Regions from separate parts of the Homo sapiens genome. Here region 1 is linked to region 2. A link means that fine-mapping ties the variant in region 2 to the expression of a gene that starts in the linked region. Tissue or cell type: whole blood. Region 2 holds a variant in brackets; the other region holds the start of a gene. All regions are shown on one strand. Distances are between the middles of the regions. Region 1 holds the start of ABCF3 (ATP binding cassette subfamily F member 3). Region 2 holds the start of DVL3 (dishevelled segment polarity protein 3).

Region 1 (9,257 bases), 29 kb before region 2:
AATTAGTGGTTGCCATGTGCTAGTCAAGATTAGCCCTCCAAGAACAGTGTGGAATACTCTGCTTCCCAGCAGAGGAGGAAGTCACAGTTGGCTTCTAGCGAAGGGGAGACCTAGAATGGTAGGGCAAGGGTGGCGTGCAAATGCGGAAGGAGACGAAGAGAACAGGAGTCAGGCCCTGGCCAAGGATGCTGTACTCACAGCTTCTCCAGCATCTTGAGTTTACTCTGCACTTGAGAGGCCCTGTTGGCATTGTAGCGAAACCGGTCAATGAAAACCTGCAGGTGGAGGAGTGTAGGCATTGGTCAAATTCCCCCACTATCCCCCACTCTGGAACCCCTGGGATGGGACCCCCAGCCCTGCCAGGCCCCACACCTGGATGTGCTGGCGATACTGCTGCTGCGCCTCATATTCACGCTGCTGGTTGAGCAGCCGCTCCTGCTTACTCTTGATGAAGGTCTCAAAGTCTCCCCGGTAACCATCTAGCCGCTGGCTGTGCAGGTGGATGATGTCTGTGGCGATGGCATTCAAGAAGTTGCGGTCGTGGGAGACGACTAGGATGGTGGAGGGCCACGTCTGAGGGGTCACAGGACAGCAGGCCCGGTTTGGGAGGGCAGTCAGTTCTCAGGCCCCCAGGTATCTTGGAGGCCGCCTTTCCCCAACACACTCCAGCACCCACAGGCACTCACCTGCAGGTAATTCTCCAGCCACAGGATGGCCCTGACATCCAGCATGTTTGTAGGTTCTGGAGAAGCAGGGGAGCACACACTTGGGATTGAAGGGCTGGAGAACTAGGAACTTGGATGCTACCACCCCTGCCCATCCTAAAGTCAGGGTGCCCCATTTCAAACTCACCATCTAACAGCAGAAGATCTGGCCTATGAAAAACAATACATGGCCTGAGGTTTTAGGTCAGCAACTCATGCCACCTCCCAAGAGCTAAGACCAATCTTCCATAGGGCTTCATACACTGGCCCAGGAGACTCACCTAGCAAAGAGGGCCCGGGCCAGGGCCAGCCTCATCCTCCAGCCACCTGAGAACTCCCTAAAGAATGATGGAGTCACATTATGGGTGGGTGTTCATCAGGGCAGGAAGGGGCTGAGACAACAGGGTTCAAAGCCAAGAATGGCAAGGGTCACTCACCGGGTGGGCTGCTGCTGCATTTTAGGGGTAAAGCCAAGCCCAGCGAGAATGACTGATGCCCTAGTAGAGAAGAAATCGAAGAACTCAGTTGGAACAGTCCACAGAAGGGAAAGGAAATCTGAAGGAGGGAGGGGGAGCTTTAAATACCTGGCAGGTGCCTTGTCAGCCTCAATCTCCTCCAGTTTGGCATAGATTTCTGCCAGCTCTGCAGCTTCAGAGCCCTCCGCCCTGGAGGGAGGAGAAACAGCAATTGGCCTAAGCAGGGGCAGTCTAGGAGGATGTCCTGCACCCTATACCGTTGGAAAGGCCATTGGCTACCTTGTGGCTGGAAGAGGAAGAGAATACAGGAAGGGTTTGCACAGTGCTCATTACCTTGGGCACTATGGAAATGGGCACTGTGGAAAGAACAAGAAAGGGCAATGGGCACTGTGGAAAGAACAAGGGCTTCTGAGTCCCAGAGTGCCAAGTTCTAAGCTCTGCTGATTACTAGGATGTACATGCAAATTATGGATTGTTCCAGGACGGCAGGCGCTCTGTAAGCGACAGCGGCTGCTAGTTACTCCCTAGCCGGGAGTCCTCACCTGCCAGCAGCAATCTGGGCAGTGAGCTCCCGCTCCCTCCGTAGCAAATCCTCTCGCACACTGTCACTCTCCAGCACACTCTGCAGGGCAGGAGTGTCATCTCCAGCAACCTCTTGCTCAACGTGCAGCAGGGAAATGTGGGCTGGAACCCGCAGACTCCGGGTGGCCAGCATCTTCAGTAACGTTGTCTTCCCCAACCCATTCCGCCCCACCAGCCCGTAACGGCGGCCCCATGCCAGGTTCACATCCGCTCCAGCCAGCAGTACTCTGCAGGAGTGGAGAAAGGAGACCAAAGATGCTCTAGAAATAGGTGCACAGCAAGTTTAATGACAAACCTAACATTGTTTATAGCCCCGTTTCACCTCTCCAAATTGTCCTCTAATTAGAAAAAGAAAGCCAACCCCTGCCACCACTATTCCCTCACCTATCGCCAAAAGACACATCAAAGTTCTCAATTCGCACATCATAGGATTTGTTCTTGCCAGATGATTCCAACCGACTCTCCTTTCTGCTGCCTGCCTGGCTGGCTGATGCCTCTTCTAAGACTCTTTAAAGGGAGAAATGGACAGCTCTTAGTGCTCCCCACCACCTTCTGTCCAGGCAAAAGCTGCTCTGCTCTCTTCTGAGCCATGCTTCCCCCACTCACAGAGGGTTGCTGGTCTTGAGCGTGTCCTTCTCTGAGCGCTTCTCCTGCTTTGCCTTAAGTCGAGCCTCGGCCTTCTCTAACTTCTTTGCATTCACTGTCTAAGGGTCCAAACACATCGACTTCACTCTCGGGTGTAGGCTCAGAAAGGAACCCCAAGAGAGAACATCTCGAGTAAACCCTCTTAACTTACCCATGATGAACAGACTCAAAGGCTCAGGAAAAGACATAGTCAGAAATCCCCCCAAAAGATACTCCAATTAGACAGTCAACTCCCAACCCCATCACAGACAGTCCCCTCCCTTGCTTCCTCCTCCTCACCGAGGACTGTTCCCTCTTTAGCAGTCCTGGAAGTTTGGTTCCACAGTCTGTAAGCGATAAGAAAAGCAGTCACCTTCTCCCTGAGGGAAGGGAAACTAACATTTTGAGTGACTAATAGGAACCAGGCACAGACACAGATGTTTTCTACAAAACCTTATAATACTGCAGATAGATGGCTATTATCTTCCCTGCACTAAAAACAAAACAAAACAAAACAAAACAAAACTCACGTAGAAGGATACAGAGGCATAGACAAGGCTGGGGACAGATAACCAACTCTTACAAGATCATGCAGCTGGTTAGCAAGTTGCAAAACTGGGGGTGAAAGCAAGTCTGTCCAGCTCCAGGCTCTTATGCTTCCTATCCTACCCAAGAGCTTGGAGGGAGAACCCTCCAACCTCCTCCCCACCCCCATCATGGGCTCTTCTGCCCTCGGTAAAGACATCAACTAGCTCCTACAACCTTGTCCTGTGGAAAAGACGTAGGAGCCCTAAGCTGCAGGCAGCAGATGGTTGGGGGCGGAGAAAAGCACAGGGGGGCAGTTAGTTCAACCTCCCCTCACTCTCACCGTAGTTCTCCGTTATCTTTGACAACTGGATAGGGGCGTCCAGTAGCACCTGGCTATTTCCCTGGCTTTGTGGCTCAGCCCTATGTGGGTAGGGATAGAAAGCGCAGAGTTAGGAGTTGAGGGAAAAGCTCTATGGCCATCAGATCTTCCTCCCCCACCTCTTGTCTCCGGACCGTTCGCCGTCCCTTCGCCCCCATCAACCCCTACTCCCTGGCACATACAGACGCAGAGTGTTGTACATGCGCTGGCACACGGCCCTGATGCCCGCGTCATCCTTGCTGTCCCCGGACACCTCTTGCAATAGTTCCCCTACAGCTTCCACCAGGTCATCCACAGACTCGAAGTCCGCGCTGCCGCTGTGCAAGACGCCTGGGCAGGGCGTGGTAGAACGAGGAAGGTATCGGGTAGGGTGGACACACAAGCAGTTTCAGACCCCAGACAGAGGCCCCAGTCCAGGCTCCAGACCCAACCAGCCCCCGGGACAAGAGGTCATGCAGAGGAGAGGCCTGGCAACAGTCCCGGGCACGACGCTCGCTTAGACTTTCCCCCGGCCTCCACTTCGGTCTCCCCAGCCGGCCGATTCAGTTCTGCTTACCGGTCACGTAGTCGAAGACTTGTCCGTCAATTTCGGGGAACTCGCTCCGCAGGATTTCGGCGCAAGTCGCCATGTTCCACTCAGGAACCCGTCCGCGCAGTCGCTGTGAGACCCCGGCCTAGGCCCGCCCCCCGCCCTGCCCCCGAAATCTCGCCCTTCCTTGCAAGGCGCATGTGTAGCGGTGACGCAGGAAAGGAGCGGAGTGCGCAGAGCCCGGTGGGCGGGGCGAGCGGGGCCTTGAGGAGAGGCGCCGAGTCTGCGCCGGAGCCGCGCTCTCTGCGCGTGCGCGACACCTTTTCCGCTGAAAGATTAGCCACATGTGCGGTTCTCGCTGCCTTCTGGGAGGTGGAGTTCCGGGAGCGAGGGGTGGGGCAAAGGCTGGGAGCTCAAGGTTTATCGGGGCCGCGAGGCACCCGTGGTCTGGCGGGTGGGAGCCTCCCAAGAGGCAGGCGGCTGATAAAGCACTTTGGCTTTGCCAGGTTTTATGCGCTCCCTCGAGGCGCGTCTGCTGCTGGTGCGTACCCAGTCAGGCCCATTTTGGAGCCTGCCCAGAGCTTTGCTGACTCACCCCGGTCCCTGACTCTCAGAAGCCCCCTGCTCAGTGCTTTGCTTTCGCGGGTCCCCAGACCCTACGGGCTTCTCAGCCTGGTGGCCAGCGCCACCCGCCTCCCCGCCGCGACCGCCTTTTCACTGTGTAATTCAGCCGACCTTTGTGAATTAAGCCCATTCAGTTCTTCCACCACCCCAGGGCACGACCAAATCCACCGCCAAAGGGCAAGAAAACCAGGACAACGTGGCCTGTATAAATTATTCCCTACCTACACCCTGAGCAGACTTCTCTGCACTCAATAAATGCCAATAAAAGGCTATTTCCTTTCACCGATTCCCTCGGGAAGTTAGGAATTTCCTCCAAAATGATGCTACTGCTTTATATTTAACGTGAATATTCCTCCAATTGGTCTCTAAAAGTGGCACCGAAAATTACATTATTACCCATTCATCCCTTTGGATTAAACATTGCCATCATGAGGCATCAATCCCGATATTGAACCATTTTACAGGAAATACAGGTAAAGAGGAATATGTTAAGTGACTTCATGGGGACAACAGGCAAATTCTGATGTGGTAAACTACAGAACTCTGGTTTCTTCCACAAAATTGCAAGACCTGAAGGGAAACATCAATTTTTAAAATTTGAGGAGCATTAACCAACCACAATGGACCTTATCTGGAAAAATTTGATAAGACACCTGGTTAAGTGAACACAAACTGGATGTGATATTAAGGAACTGGCCACGCATTGATCATAGTTGAAGCTGGGTGATGAGACATGGAGATTCATTATATTCTTTTTTTTTTTTTTTTTAATTTGAGAAGGAGTTTCGCTCTTGTTGCCCAGGCTGGAGTACAGTGGCGTGATCTTGGCTCACCGCAGCCTCCACCTCCTGGGTTCGAGCGATTCTCCTGCCTCAGCCCCCGAATAGCTGGGATTACCGGCATGCACCACCACGCCCGGCTAATTTTGTAATTTTAGTAGAGACGAGGTTTCCCCATGTTGGTCAGGCTGGTCTCGAATTCCGGACCTCGGGTGATCCACCCGTCTCGGCCTCCCAGAGTGCTGGGATTACAGTGTGAGCCACCGCGCCCAGTCCATTATGTTATTCTCCTTGCAAATCTTTCCTCCTACCACCCAGTCAGCAAGATTTGGGAAGCTTGGGTAAATGATGGAATTAAAAGGTCAATTTCTTAGGATGGCTACAAGACCAAATGTAAACTTCACACTTAATTTATGCTTAATCTAATTAGAAAACATCTGCCTAAGAATTAGAGAAAGAGCTGGGTGCTGTGGTGGTGCGTGCTTGTGATCCCAGCTACTCCAGAGGCTGGGGCAGGTAAGATCTCTTGAGCCTAGGAGTCCGAGGACCAGGGGGAATAAAAAGGAGCTAGGGAAAGAATCTATCCCCAGGGTACTGGGGCCCGCTGCGGCTGCATGCCCTTGAGGCTTTCTAAGAGGAGCCAGGAAACCTGGGCCCAGAACCCACAAGGATAAGGGCTTGGATGGCCCAGGAGGGGCCTAACTGGGACAAGACAAGGAAAGAGCCTTTAGAGTATTCAGTACAGAAAACTGCACGGAGAGCAACACCAGTTCCCTCCCCATGTAGCTCCCACATCAACACTAAGCCAGCAACTCCACTCTACAGAGTTTATTGGGTTTGTAACTGGACGAAGTCACACGTGTACAAAATGAAGCTCACACTATCCCAAAGCAGAGTAGGGACTGAGGCCGGGGATCCATTACTGGCCTTTGGGGGAGCTCTGAGGTGAGGGGCAACCAACCCTCCCACTCCAGAGCTGTGGCCACAGGGGTGGGAAGGAAAGGGAACCCACCTGGCTTTGGTCACAGAACTCAGAGCCTGGCATTAGGCCAGGACAGACAGGTGGATGGGAGAGCAGGAGCCTCAGAACTCCCCTGCCCAGGGAGCCCAGGGGCTGCTCCACCGGTCCCACTTGTAATGTGCTTGGCCCAGACCTAGACTCGGGCTGGTGCAAAGGGAAGGCAGCAAAGCAGGAGGGAGGAGACACTGATGTGTGGTGGGGGAGGGAGCGGCACCTGGACCTGTGGAGGAGGGTGGCTGGGGAGGTGGGCTAGCTGCCTAGTGGCAGCTAGCAGCGAGTTTCATAAATGCCACTGCGGCCAATGTAGCGCACCCATTTGATGACATCATGGTCGCTGTAGTTCAGCTTCGGTTCAAACACCTTCAAGTAGCGCACCTTGAGGCCAGAGGGCGCGAATGGCACCTGGGCAAGGAGAGCTAGTTAGAAATGTGGCCTTCCTCTTACAGCCGCTCTCCTCTGGGAAGTCCCGTTGCCCTGCCCTACTTCATCGCTACTACAGGTGTTTGTATGGCTGGGGTCCTGAAAGAAGCTGGGGCGGCGTGGGACCTTCTAAGAGGTGACTAAAGAAGAAAGCCCTACCTGTGACACCTTGAATCAGTTCCTTTAATCAGCAGGAGACAGCAACCAAAGAACTGCTTTAGAACATACTTATCCTGCTCAATATTATGAACTTAAAAATAAGGTGGAGAAAATTATGTCTAACATGCGCAAAGCAAAGTCAGCCCATTATCCTGTCTGTAAGTAAACTTTGTGTCTTACCTGGCATTTAAACAATCTAAGTTTTTTGAAAGAACTGTGTTAGGACAAGCCGAGAGAAGTAAAAGATTTGCCTCATCACAAATAGTAATTTCTACTAAGAGGCTTGAAAGGGGAAGAATGGATCTATGAATTAAAGCCAGTTCTTCTTTCTAGGCCTCAGTTTCCTCACCTCTAAGGTGCAGCAGTTTATCGGAATGATCTCTAAGAGGTCTTCCAGCATACCCTGGCATGACTCTAGGCCCCTCCTCTGCCATACCTCAAAGTTCATGGAAATGGGGGGTCGAGCCCATTTCTTCTTGTCGTTGGTAGGCAGAAGCTCAATCTCTGCGCTGATCTGCGATTCCTTCATGCCTGCCATGCGCTTGATCCTGGGAACACAGGGACAATGGGCAGCCCATTGGGGCTTGGAGGAGTTTCAAGGGCAGTTGCCCATTTCAAGCAAGGAGAGAGCCCAGGAGCTTGCAGGAGGTGCCAGAACAAGGAGAAGTGGTCAGGACCCTGCTAACCACTTGCTATGGAAACTTGGGTCTACTTCTTTAGAACAACAGGATGCAGTTTCTGCCTAGACACTTGGACATGCTATCGTTTGCTTTGTCTGCTTCACAGATACATTACAAAGGCAATGTATTCCCTTTGTAATGTATACATTACAAAGGGAAATGCCAAAGCATCTTAAAAAATAAGCACGTGCATGAACCCAAATGCAGGCGTGTACATACTCACATGGAGGTATAAAGACTGACAGTACAAGCAGAGGCTCCTAGAAAAGCAAACAGGCACACTCCCCTGCCCCTCATTCAGAAGGATCAAAGCTGAAAACAAGAGGGTATACTGGGATCTTGAGCCCTGCTGTGGCCTAATGAAGGAAAGACTCACTTCCACACGATGGCATTCTCGCTGGCCTTGTACTTGGCCTTCCCCTTCATGCAGATCACCTGCACCCCGCTTGTGTTCAGTGGGGTTGGGATCCTCACCTAGAAGTGACACACCTGTCAGGGAGCTCTGTCAAGCTGTGACATCAGCTACCTTTATTCCTAGGGACAAGTTCTTCCTCCTCCTTGAGCCCCCTGTCCTCACCTCGATCTTCTGAGCCAGCAGTGAGGGTTTAAAGTTGGACTTGATGACCACCTTGACCTCCAGTTTGGTGCGTCCCACTTCTCGCACTAGCGGGATCACCCGGAAGGGAAGGATGATGTCCTTGGTTGTGCGATACCTTAAGGGATGGGAAGCAAGGTTACCAAAGAGCTGACCCACTTCCTCTCCCCAGTCTGCCAGCAGCACTAGCTGCCTCCTCACACCCCAATGGCACCTCATAAGCTCAAACTCTCCATCTGGCGGGATAAAGCTGATGCTGCGTTCAGAGTCAAACTTGCTGAGTCGCACACACTGGTGGAAGGTGCAGTCATCAATGGCAATTGATTGCTTCCCGCTGCAAGCAGGGGCAGAAGAGGTCTCATTGGTACAGGAGAATGACAGCTGTCATGCTGGGAGACCACTCCACCCCAGGCTGGCACCAGAGACTATGAAAAGCTGCTAGAATGCAGCTTTGTGACTCGGAGGTCTGCCCCAGAGCTTGGGATGAGAGGGAAGCCTTGCAAGCTCATCTCTTGGGGCTCCTTCTGCTAGGGACCTGGGTGTTTCAGGCACACTGGGCAGAGGCTGTCAGTATGTACAGAAAAGGCCTTGGTCCTAGGGACCAAACAAAGGGGCTTGCTCTCTGAGGACGATCCCCTCATCTCTCGTAGCACTAATGTCAAGAGCGAACAGCCAGGCTTACCGTCAGGAACAGAGTTTGCAATTACAGTGGGAATGAAATCCAGAAGAAACTTGTGGTTCACTAGACCCCACTGAGCCCTCCAAGGGACACCCTCTCCCACCAGCTCTCCTGCCTCAGGCACCTCTTGCTTGTTTCATCAGCTGTGCCTTTGCCCTGCTTTTCAATAACAATCTTGTCATTCATCCCAAACTTGCATTCAGGCATGCCACTCAGGTAGCTCTTCATCACCACCCGGCCCGACACATGGGCACTCAGCACCTGCCCTGGTGATGGAACAGATAAATGGGGAGCAGCGGAGTCAGGCAGGCAGGCCCAGGATCCTGCCCTGGGCCCCCTCCAACTTTGTCGTGAGAGGGACCTCACCTTGTGGGGACATGAGCAGGTTCACACTCTCCAGCACATCCAGGAAGAGCTCATTCCGACGATACTTGATACCCTCTCGCCGCCAGCCAATCTGCCCAGTTACCTGGCTGGT
Region 2 (9,361 bases):
CAAGAAGTCAGGCAGTAACTACAGTTTGGGGCTAGGAAGGGGAGTGGAAAAGTTTGAGGACCCTCAGACTGTCAAATATGCCAGGAGTACAGAGATGGGAAGACATGACCAAGGGTAAGATGACGCATGCCAGGAGCTCTGAGCAGAGAGGGAAGACAGCAAGGAGGAGGTTGGGAAGTTCAGTCCCCACTTGTTCTTTGGTTTTTTTTTTTTGAGACGGAGTCTCGCTCTGTCACCCAGGCTGGAGTCCAGTGGTGCAATCTCAGCCCACTGCAACCTGCGCCTCCCGGGTTCAAGTGATTCTCCTGCCTCAGCCTGCCGAGTAGCTGGGATTACAGGTGCCTGCCACCACGCCTGGCTAATTTTTATATTTTTAGTAGAGATAGGGTTTCACCGTGTTGGCCAGGGTGGTCTTGAACTCCTGACCTCAGGTGACCCGCCCACCTCGGCCTCCCCAAATGCTGGGATTACAGGCGTGAGCCGCCGTGCCTGGCCCCCCTTGTTCTTAGAGCAGCTTCTGCCCAGAGCTGGGAATGTGCTTGGCTCCCTTGTGATGCTCACATTTTTGGACTCACAGCCAAGTTCACAGGCCAAGCCTGCCCTCCCCACTCCCATCCAGCTCTGGCTCCTCTATCATTCCCAGAGCCACAGCGACCCTCGGAAAGCAGCCCAAATCATCCTACTGCGGCCCACCATGGCAGAAAGTGTAGAAAGGACAGGCTAGAAAGAAGGGACACAGAGGTAGCTCAGACCCACCAGCCACTCTGGCCACAGGGTACTCCAGGTTGGCAGCCCCACAGGGCTCAAAGGAAAAGGGAATATGTGGGCCACATGGCACAGCCTGCTTTGGATAGGGTCTGCCTGTCTGGGGGAAATTGCTGCTGAGTCCCTACCTCCCTGCTCCCCTGGCAGGCCCCACCACACTGCTCCACACTACACGTTTCCTCTCTTTCTGGGGGTCATCGACAGGCCACCAAGGCTCTGCTGACTCAAAACAATCAGCTGATCTTCAGCAGCTTTGGGGAACCTCAGACAGGTCTTACTCTCCCACCATGGAGCTGAATGGCTGGGGTTTACATAGCACTTACACACACACACACACACTCATACCCCAAATGGAGTCAAACAAATAATGACTCAAATTCCAATTCTACCACTTACTGGCCCTCTTATCTTAGAGAAGTTTCTTAATTTCTCCAAGCCTTTGTCTCATCCTGGTAAAAGGGATCCTTAAATGCCTGGCATGATCCAGGCATACAGTAAAAGCTAATTATATTGTCCATTTTTAGCAGGATCCATACACTATTTCTAACTACGTATACATTATTAAGGGCAAAGCAAATAAACCTGTTCATCATTCATTGTTCATCCAATTAAAATGCTTTGACTGGCAGGGCACGGTGGCTCAGGCCTGTAATCCCAGCACTTTGGGAGGCCAAGGTGAGCGGATCATGAGTCAGGAGATCAAGACCATCCTGGCTAATACGGTGAAACCCCGTCTCTACTAAAAATACCAAAAAAAAAAAAAAAAAATTAGCAGGGCGTGGTGGCGGGCACCTGTAGTCCCAGCTACTCGGGAGGCTGAGGGAGGAGAATGGCGTGAACCCAGGAGGCGGAGCTTGCAGTGAACCAAGATCGTGCCACTGCACTCCAGCCTGGGCGACACAGCGAGACTCCCTCTCAAAAAACATACAATAAAATAAAAATAAAAAATAAAAAAATAAAAATAAAATAAAATAAAATGCTTTGGCTGAGGGCCCAGTGGGTTTCAGGTCCTGAGCTTGCTATTGTAGGTTTTCTCATGAAACATCAGACCCAGAGCCTGCCTTGTTCTCAGAGAGACTATGGTCCAGTGGATAGTTCATGGAAATATACTGCAATCCAGGAAGTGGTTGGAGCCGTAGGAGCAGCACATGTGTTCAATGGATAGACATCTGCTGAGTGTTACACAGGTGTCAGGATATAAAGATAAAATATACCAGGCACGGTGGCTCACACCTGTAATCCCAGCACTTTGGGAGGCCAAGGTGGGCGGATCACTTGAGGTCAAGAGTTCGTGACTAGCTTGGCTAACGTAGCAAAACCCCATCTCTATTTAAAATACAAAAATTAGCCAGGTGTGGTGGCACACACCAGTAGTCCCAGCTATTTGTGAGGCTGAAGCAGGAGAATCGTTTGAACCCGGGAGGCAGAGGTTGCAGTGAGCCAAGGTCGCACCACTGTACCCCAGCCTGGGTGACAAAGCCAGGCTCCATCTCAAAAAAAAAAAAAAAGGATAAAATAAGAGAGTGCCATGACAGTTCTCACAGAAAAGCTCAACCCAGAAGACAGGAGAATTTGAACCTGGAGGAGACAGGGGAAGAAGAGTCTGCAGGTGGAAGGCCCAGAGGGAGGACAGTGGAGCAGGAAGCCACACAGCTAATGACCTGATCGCCATGCTGCCCTCTCTCACAGCTCAAGGCCAGACTAGCAGTAGGCACCTTACTTCTATGAACCATCCACCATGCCCTCAATGCTGAAAATGTTTATCCTTCCTCCATTTCTCAAATAACTTAAGATGGCAGGCCAGGCGCGGTGGCTCATCACCTGTAATCCCAGCACTTGGGGAGGCCGAGGTGGGTGGATTGCTTGAGGTCAGGAGTTCCAGACCAGCCTGGCCAACGTGGTGAAACCCCATCTCTACCAAAAATACTAAAATTAGCCAGGCATGGTGGCTCATGCCTGTAATCCCAGCTACTTGGGAGGCTGAGGCAGGAGAATCACCTGAACCCGGGAGGCGAAGGTTGCAGTGAGCCGAGATTGCGCCACTGCACTCCAGCCTGGGTGACGAGAGCAAAACTCCTCAAAAAAAAAAAAAAAAGAAAAAAAATTTAAAAAGATGGCTGGGCCTACCCTGAGCTTGACAAATACTTTTGTAGACCAGATGGGACTTGAGGAGCCTCACAACTAGCACCTCAAAGGCTGAGCCAGGAGTGGAGAAACTGGAGAGACAGCAGCCTTCCTCCTCTGACCCACTTTCCTTCCTCTAGGGTCACTGACCTCCGCCTGACCTTCCTCTTGTGGGGCTCGGAGAAATGGTGGCCTTGTCACCTCTACAGTTTTCCAAGGCTTACCACCTCCCTCGGAGAGGATTCATCAGTAAAATGGTGATAATAATGACACCTAAAATTGTGCGATTAAGGATTTAGATTTTTGGATCCAGATTCCTGATGTCAAAGCAAGCTCTGCTCTGCCTCTTATTAGCTGTGTGACCTTAGGCAAGTTACTTAAGCTTTCTGTGCTCTAGTTTCCTTTTTTTTTTTTTTCTGAAACACGGTCCCACTCTATTTTCCAGGCTGGAGTACAGTGGCACCATCACAGCTCACTGCAGCCCCAAACTCCTATGCTCAAGTGATCCTCCTGTCTCAGCCTCCCAAGTTGGGACTACAGGCACAAAGCATCATGCCTGGCTAATTAAAAAATTTTTTTGTAGAGATGGGGTCTTGCTATGTTGCCAAGGCTGGTCTCAGATTCCTGGCCTCAAGCAATCCTCCCACCTCAGCCTCCCAAATTGCTGAGATTACAGGTGTGAGCCACCATGCCTGACAGAGTTTCATTTGTAAACTAGAGATACTATTACGCTATCTATTTCATAAGGCTGTTTCGAAGATTAAATGAGTGAAGATTTGAAAAGCATTTAGATTAGTCCCTGGCACACTAAGCATAAAAGGCGTGTGTTAAATAAATGAAACATATATATATGCTCTTCAGCTATTAGTCCTCTGTGACAAGACAGCTCTATCAGTTCCCCTGCTCATTTATCCTTCTGGGGATACAAACAGAATCCATCTCCTCCACTTCATTTTTAATACTGTTTTCAACCCTGCTAAAATGGTCCAACTCTGATTTTGGTTCAAGTACCACTGATGTTTGCAAGATGGCTTCAGGTGGCACACAGATTAACATTGCTTAGTTCAATCATTAAATATTTATGTTAAACATATTTTAGAAAGAAATATAAACAGAAAA[G/A]TCAGACCTATGGTTTCATATTATTGCTTGGTTCAAGCTAAGAAAAACAGTAAGTGGACTGACAATGGATTTAAAGAAAAATATTAAGTAACAGTGACTGGATGTAATGGGGGCCCTCTTAAAACTGCAGTTAGGCCTTGGGATTGGGAGAGCAGCCCAGAGTTGTCCAGGCTTAGGAGGCAGGGGCCAGGTCCAGTGGGTCTGGAGATAAGTACAGGGTGGAGAGACAGCCTATCTTAGTCCCTCAAGGCATCTGGATCTGAGGTGGCCCCAGGGCACTGGACTCTGGCTCATCTTCCCCCATTCCTTATGTGGAGGCAGTAGCTTGATCCCTTCTAACCCTATTCTTCTCTTGCCAGGCCAAAGTATCCACCCCCTCACCCAGACCCCTTCTAGATCCATCCCTCCTCAGAATCTTCCAATTAGAGGTGTCTGTCTCTGGGCTGAAGGCAGACAATCATTATCACACCAGGAGCACCCCACCCCAGGGCAGGAACAACAACAGAAACAAGAATAGTTAGAATCTACAAAGCACTGCCCACTGTACAAAGCACTCTCACACACATGATTTCAGGGGCTCATCCAACCCTGAGTTCCAGGGCAGAAGGTGACAGCAAAACATGCCAGGCATTAGACAGAAGGTGCTTGCTTCCTAGTGCTAGGTGGGCCAGGGGCTTGGGAGAGAAGCCAGACAGATGAACACTGGGGAGAAGAATGTCTCCTCTTGGCTGTGGGGCCTCAGCTCCAAAGAGCAGTGCAGGCCTCAGGCTAGGGCTGGAGAGGCAGCCTTCAGGCCTGGAGGGGCCTTCCCCACCGCCTCCAGGCCCAGCGCCCAGTTAGTGAGGCGGCAGGCAAGTGTGGGCGCCTCCCCCTCCCCCAGTCTCCTGGGAGTTGGGGGGGTTCGAGGGGGATCAGCCAGGCCCCCCTCTTCCCAGGCCAGCTGCTTCAGAACCTTCCGGCTCCAACATTCCATCCCCTCTTAAAGGGAAAGTGACTGCTTCCAAACTGTGCCTGTCCAGATCTCTGCAGCTGGGTGGAAGGGAAGACCCCACCAGGGAGGGGAAGATAGAGAACACCAAGAAACTCTTCCTGGCTATCCCACCCAGGCCCCAGGCCCTTCCTAACGTCTCTCCACTGGCCACCAACTGGAGGAAAAAAGCCCGAATTGGAGGAAAGATCAGCACCTGGGTCAGTGAGGACTACTCCGCAGGGGTCAGGCTCTCTGTTCCGGTGACAACACCCACAACAGCCCACAAAGGAGAGGGCAGGCAGCTAGATAAACATCAGATCTGCAGACCCCGCTCGCGGCCAGGCGCCCGAGCACCCCCGACACCCCTCCCCCAGCTCAAAGTCCCAGCAGAGCCCTCAGATGCAGCATACTCCAAATATGGCTGGGAGCTGTGCTGCTGAAAAGATGAAGGGGGCGAAGAACGAGGGCCACACGACCCAAGTCTGTGCGGAAAAAGGTGGCTCTGGCTCCTCGGCAGGAGGAGGATGGGGGACTCGGGCTCTGAAACTAGGTGGAGGGGGGGTGTGTCTGTCTCTGTGGGCCACTGGTCTCTGAAGAGGTAAGGGGACCGCACCGGCAGGAACTCTGATTGCTAGTGGGGAATTGGACGTCCCCTTAAACAAGGGAGGCCAACGTCCCCTCTTCAGAGGTAAACGGGAGTTGCTACTGGGGCTGGAACCAAAGGGGCCCAAATGGGCCGAGTCGCCCCTAGAAGTCAGAGCGGGGCTAGGAGCCGGTGTAGCGAGGCAAGTCGAAACGGACCGCGTCATCCCTTAGAAGCCAGAGCGGCCGGGGCTCCCGGAGGCGGGGCGGGGGCCATCCTCACCCGAAATCGTCGTCCATAGACTTGAAGAAGAACTTATAGCTGGGTCGCTGCAAAACGCCCTTAAAGTCCGCCAAGGTGACGCGCTCGGCGGGCAGGGGCAGCTTCACAAGGTACGGCGTCTCCTGCCCATCCAAGTGGTAGATGATCTTGGTCTCGCCCATGGCTCTGGCCTCGGGCCCGGCGGCCCGCGCGCGGCCTGCTCGGGCGGCCGGGCCGAGCCTCCCAGACGGCGGCGGCGCGCGGCGCGGCCCAGCGGCTCAACCCAGCTCGGCGGCTGCTGGCGGCGCCAGCTCCCTTGTTCTCCGGCCGCTACCGGGTCCCAGCGCCGCCCGCCGCCGCCGCGGCCGCCGCTTCCGCTCCCCACTCTCCCGACTGGACTGGCGACCGCGACTCTTCCGGTGGCCGCGGCCCTCCCGGCCCAGGGCTTCGTCCGGGCCCGCTCCCCTCCTCCGGCCCGGCGCGGCCCCGCCCCGGCGCGCCCCGCCCCCGGCCGCCGCGGAGAGGCGCCGGCGTCGCGGCAGATGGCAGGGTTTCCCGCCCACTGGCCGGGCCGCGGCGCTCCGGTCCCGGGTCCCTAGAAACGGAAGGGGAGATTCACCGGGATGGCGGCGTTCCCGGACCCCTGAAGGCCCTGACTCCGGACCCAAGTGGGATCGGCGACTCCTCTGCAGTCCAGGAAGAGTGGAATGCAGGGATTGCTTTGGTCCCCAGAAATGGTCTGGGGAAAGAGGGTGGGTCTGACTCTGGATCCCTGGAGGAGAATGACCTCAACATGGCCCTTCAGTGTTTCTTGAGAAGCACAACTGCTGTCACTGAGTCTACTAAACTGATCTCGAGAGAAGGACAGCATCCAGTTCTGATTCCTCCCTATAACCTTAGCGTCCAGTTGCAAGGTAGTGGTTTAATAAATGGGTTGAATGCGGAATAAGTGGGGCCCGGGCGCGGTGGCTCACGCTTCTAATCCCAGCACTTTGGGAGGCCAAGGCGGGCGGATCGCCCGAGGTCGAGAGTTCAAGACCAGCCTGACCAACATGGAGAAACCCTGTCTCTACTAAAAATACAAAAAAATTAGCCGGGCGTGGTGGCGCATGCATGTAATCTCAGCTACTCGGGAGGCTGAGGCAGAAGAATCGCTTGAACACGGGCGGCGGAGGTTGCGGTGAGCCGAGATCGGTGAGTCGAGATCCTGCCTTTGCACTCCAGCCTGGGCAACAAAAGTGAAACTCCATCCCCCCTCGCCCCCCCCCAAAAAAAAAGATAAGTGGATGCATGCATGCCTAAGACAGTAAGTCTCAAACCAGAACTCCAGAACTAGGTATAGCCGGTTCCTCACAGATCTCCTCACCCCTTAACTTTTAATTCATTTAATAAATACTGAAGGCCTACTGTGTATAAGGCATATCGCATGAGATATAGCGATAGCGAGACAGACAAGGCTGCTCTCAGGACCTTCCCTCAGCTGGAGGGAAGCACATAGGCTTGTAAATACATAACTTCAGAGTGACCACTGCTATGAAGAAGGTAAAACAAAGTGATGGGATAGTGACAGGGGAAGCCAGGCGCAATGGCTCATGCCTGTAATTCCAACATTTTGGGAGGCTGAGGCAGGTGGATCACCTGAGGTTAGGAGTTCGAGACCAGCCTGGCCAAAATGGTGAAACCCCGTCTCTAGTAAAAATACAAAAATTAGCTGGACATGGTGGCGCATGCCTGTAGTCCCAGCTACTCGGGAGGCTGAGGCAGGAGAATCGCTTGAACCCGGGAGGTGGAGCTTGCAGTGAGCCGAGATCCCACCACTGCACTCCAGCCTGGGCGACAGAGCGAGACTCCGCCTCAAACAAAAACAAAAACAAAACAACCAAAACAAAACGAGAAAGAGGTTTCTGATTGGTTAGAGAAAACTTCTTCCAGAAAAAAAGACCTAGAAATAGCAAGGATGAAGTGGCTATGAGAAGATCTGGGGTGACAGCCTTCTAGGCAGAGGGCACAGCCAATATACAGGCTCAAGGCAGGAATAAACATGTTACATTTGAGGAATAAGAAGGCCATCATGACTAAAGGAACAGTCCTAGGTGAGGCTGGAAACATAGACCCGCCAGATTACATAGGGCCTTGGATGCTATGGTCTTAAGTATGGGCTCCTTCTACTCCATTTTATACACTGTTGCCAAATTAACACTAGAATAACAACATCATTCAGATACCTCTTCTACTCAGAAACCTTTCCACATTCCCCAAAGCCCCCAAATATCCCTATTCAAGGCCCCCCATAATCTAACCTCTACCTACTTTTACAGCCTTTTGTCTCATATCCTGGCCAAATTTTTGACTCCAGGAAAATGAACCCACTTGCTAGCCCCTGCACACACCTTATGTATATCGTCACTTCATACCCTTTCCTTCACCTTCTTTACATTTTTTATCAAAGTAATATGTTTGGAAGTCAAATAGTATTTAAACAGCTTTTTTTTTTTTTTTTTTTTTTTTTTTTTGAGATGGAGTCTCACTCTGTCGCCCAGGGTGGAGTGCAGTGGCACAATCTCGGCTCACTGCAAGCTCCGCCTCTTGAGTTCACGCCAGCCTCCCGAGCAGCTGGGACCACAGGCGCCCGCCAAATTTTTTGTGTTTTTTTTAGTAGAGACGGGGTTTCACTGTGTTAAACAGGATGGTCTTGATCTGAACTCGTGATCCACCTGCCTCGGCCTCCCAAAGTGCTGGGACTACAGGCGCAAGCCACCACGCCCGGCTTTTTTTTTTTTTTTTTTTTTTTTTTTTTTTTTTTGAGATGGAGTGTTGCTCTGTCGCCCAGGCTGGAGTGCAGTGGCACGATCTTGGCTCACTGTGAACTCCGCCTCCCGGGTTCATGCCATTCTCCTGCCTCAGCCTCCCGAGTAGCTGGGACTACAGGTGCCTGCCACCACACCTGGCTAATTTTTTACATTTGTAGTAGAGATGGGGTTTCACCGTGTTAGCCAGGATGGTCTCGATCTCCTGATCTCGTGATCTGCCTGCCTCGGCCTCCCAAAGTGCTGGGATTACAGGTGTGAGCCACCGTGCCTGGCCCTTAAAAAGCTTTTTAACAAAACAGCAGTCCTCCTTATTGGTATAGTGGTGAGAAAAACAAAACAAAAAACCCGAGCAATTCTTTGTCCTATTTCCCTACCACTCTTAGTACTTTTTTTTAGCTCATAATACTTGTTCTTGATTTATACATTTTAGACATTGCTTATTGATTTCCAAATTTGATTGATGATTCTCTGTCTTCCACCTTACCCTTCCCTCTTAAAATAGTGAAAGCACACTTTTTGGCTAAGTCAATATAGTACTTAGTAGTGACCTTATTTTGACTATGAGCAAATGTTCACCGCTAAGTCATGTGGAGTTTTTTTTGTTTTGTTTTTGTTTTTGTTTTTGATGGAGTCTCACTCTGTCGCCAGGCTGGAGTGCAGTGATGTGATCTCAGCTCATTGCAACCTCCACCTCCCGGGTTCAAGCGATAATTCTGCCTCAGCCTCCGA

The links. PIP is the estimated chance that this variant, and not a neighbour inherited with it, causes the effect. A credible set is the group of variants that fine-mapping cannot tell apart.
Region 1: ABCF3 starts here. The variant in region 2 is the best candidate, but not a certain one, in a credible set for the expression of ABCF3 in whole blood (INTERVAL, PIP 0.82).

Annotation. Positions count from the first base shown.
Region 1 is chr3:184,180,873-184,190,129 of GRCh38, reverse strand. ABCF3 (ATP binding cassette subfamily F member 3) reads right to left here and starts at 3,931. Exons shown (of 21, transcript NM_018358.3): 1 at 3,850-3,931; 2 at 3,476-3,623; 3 at 3,255-3,334; 4 at 2,687-2,733; 5 at 2,369-2,466; 6 at 2,147-2,269; 7 at 1,723-1,989; 8 at 1,289-1,369; 9 at 1,142-1,201; 10 at 986-1,042; 11 at 853-875; 12 at 687-742; 13 at 373-573; 14 at 199-275. The coding sequence starts at 3,922. It overlaps AP2M1 (adaptor related protein complex 2 subunit mu 1), which reads right to left. Exons shown (of 12, transcript NM_004068.4): 6 at 9,146-9,257; 7 at 8,904-9,045; 8 at 8,315-8,434; 9 at 8,083-8,218; 10 at 7,882-7,979; 11 at 7,262-7,373; 12 at 6,039-6,648. The coding sequence ends at 6,514. RefSeq lists enhancers at 3,627-3,946, 4,424-5,138, 6,432-6,946.
Region 2 is chr3:184,152,279-184,161,639 of GRCh38, reverse strand. DVL3 (dishevelled segment polarity protein 3) reads right to left here and starts at 6,263. Exons shown (of 15, transcript NM_004423.4): 1 at 5,844-6,263. The coding sequence starts at 6,004. RefSeq lists enhancers at 243-743, 3,926-4,801, 4,802-5,679 and a silencer at 6,017-6,366. The variant G/A (reference allele first, on the strand shown) is at 4,009.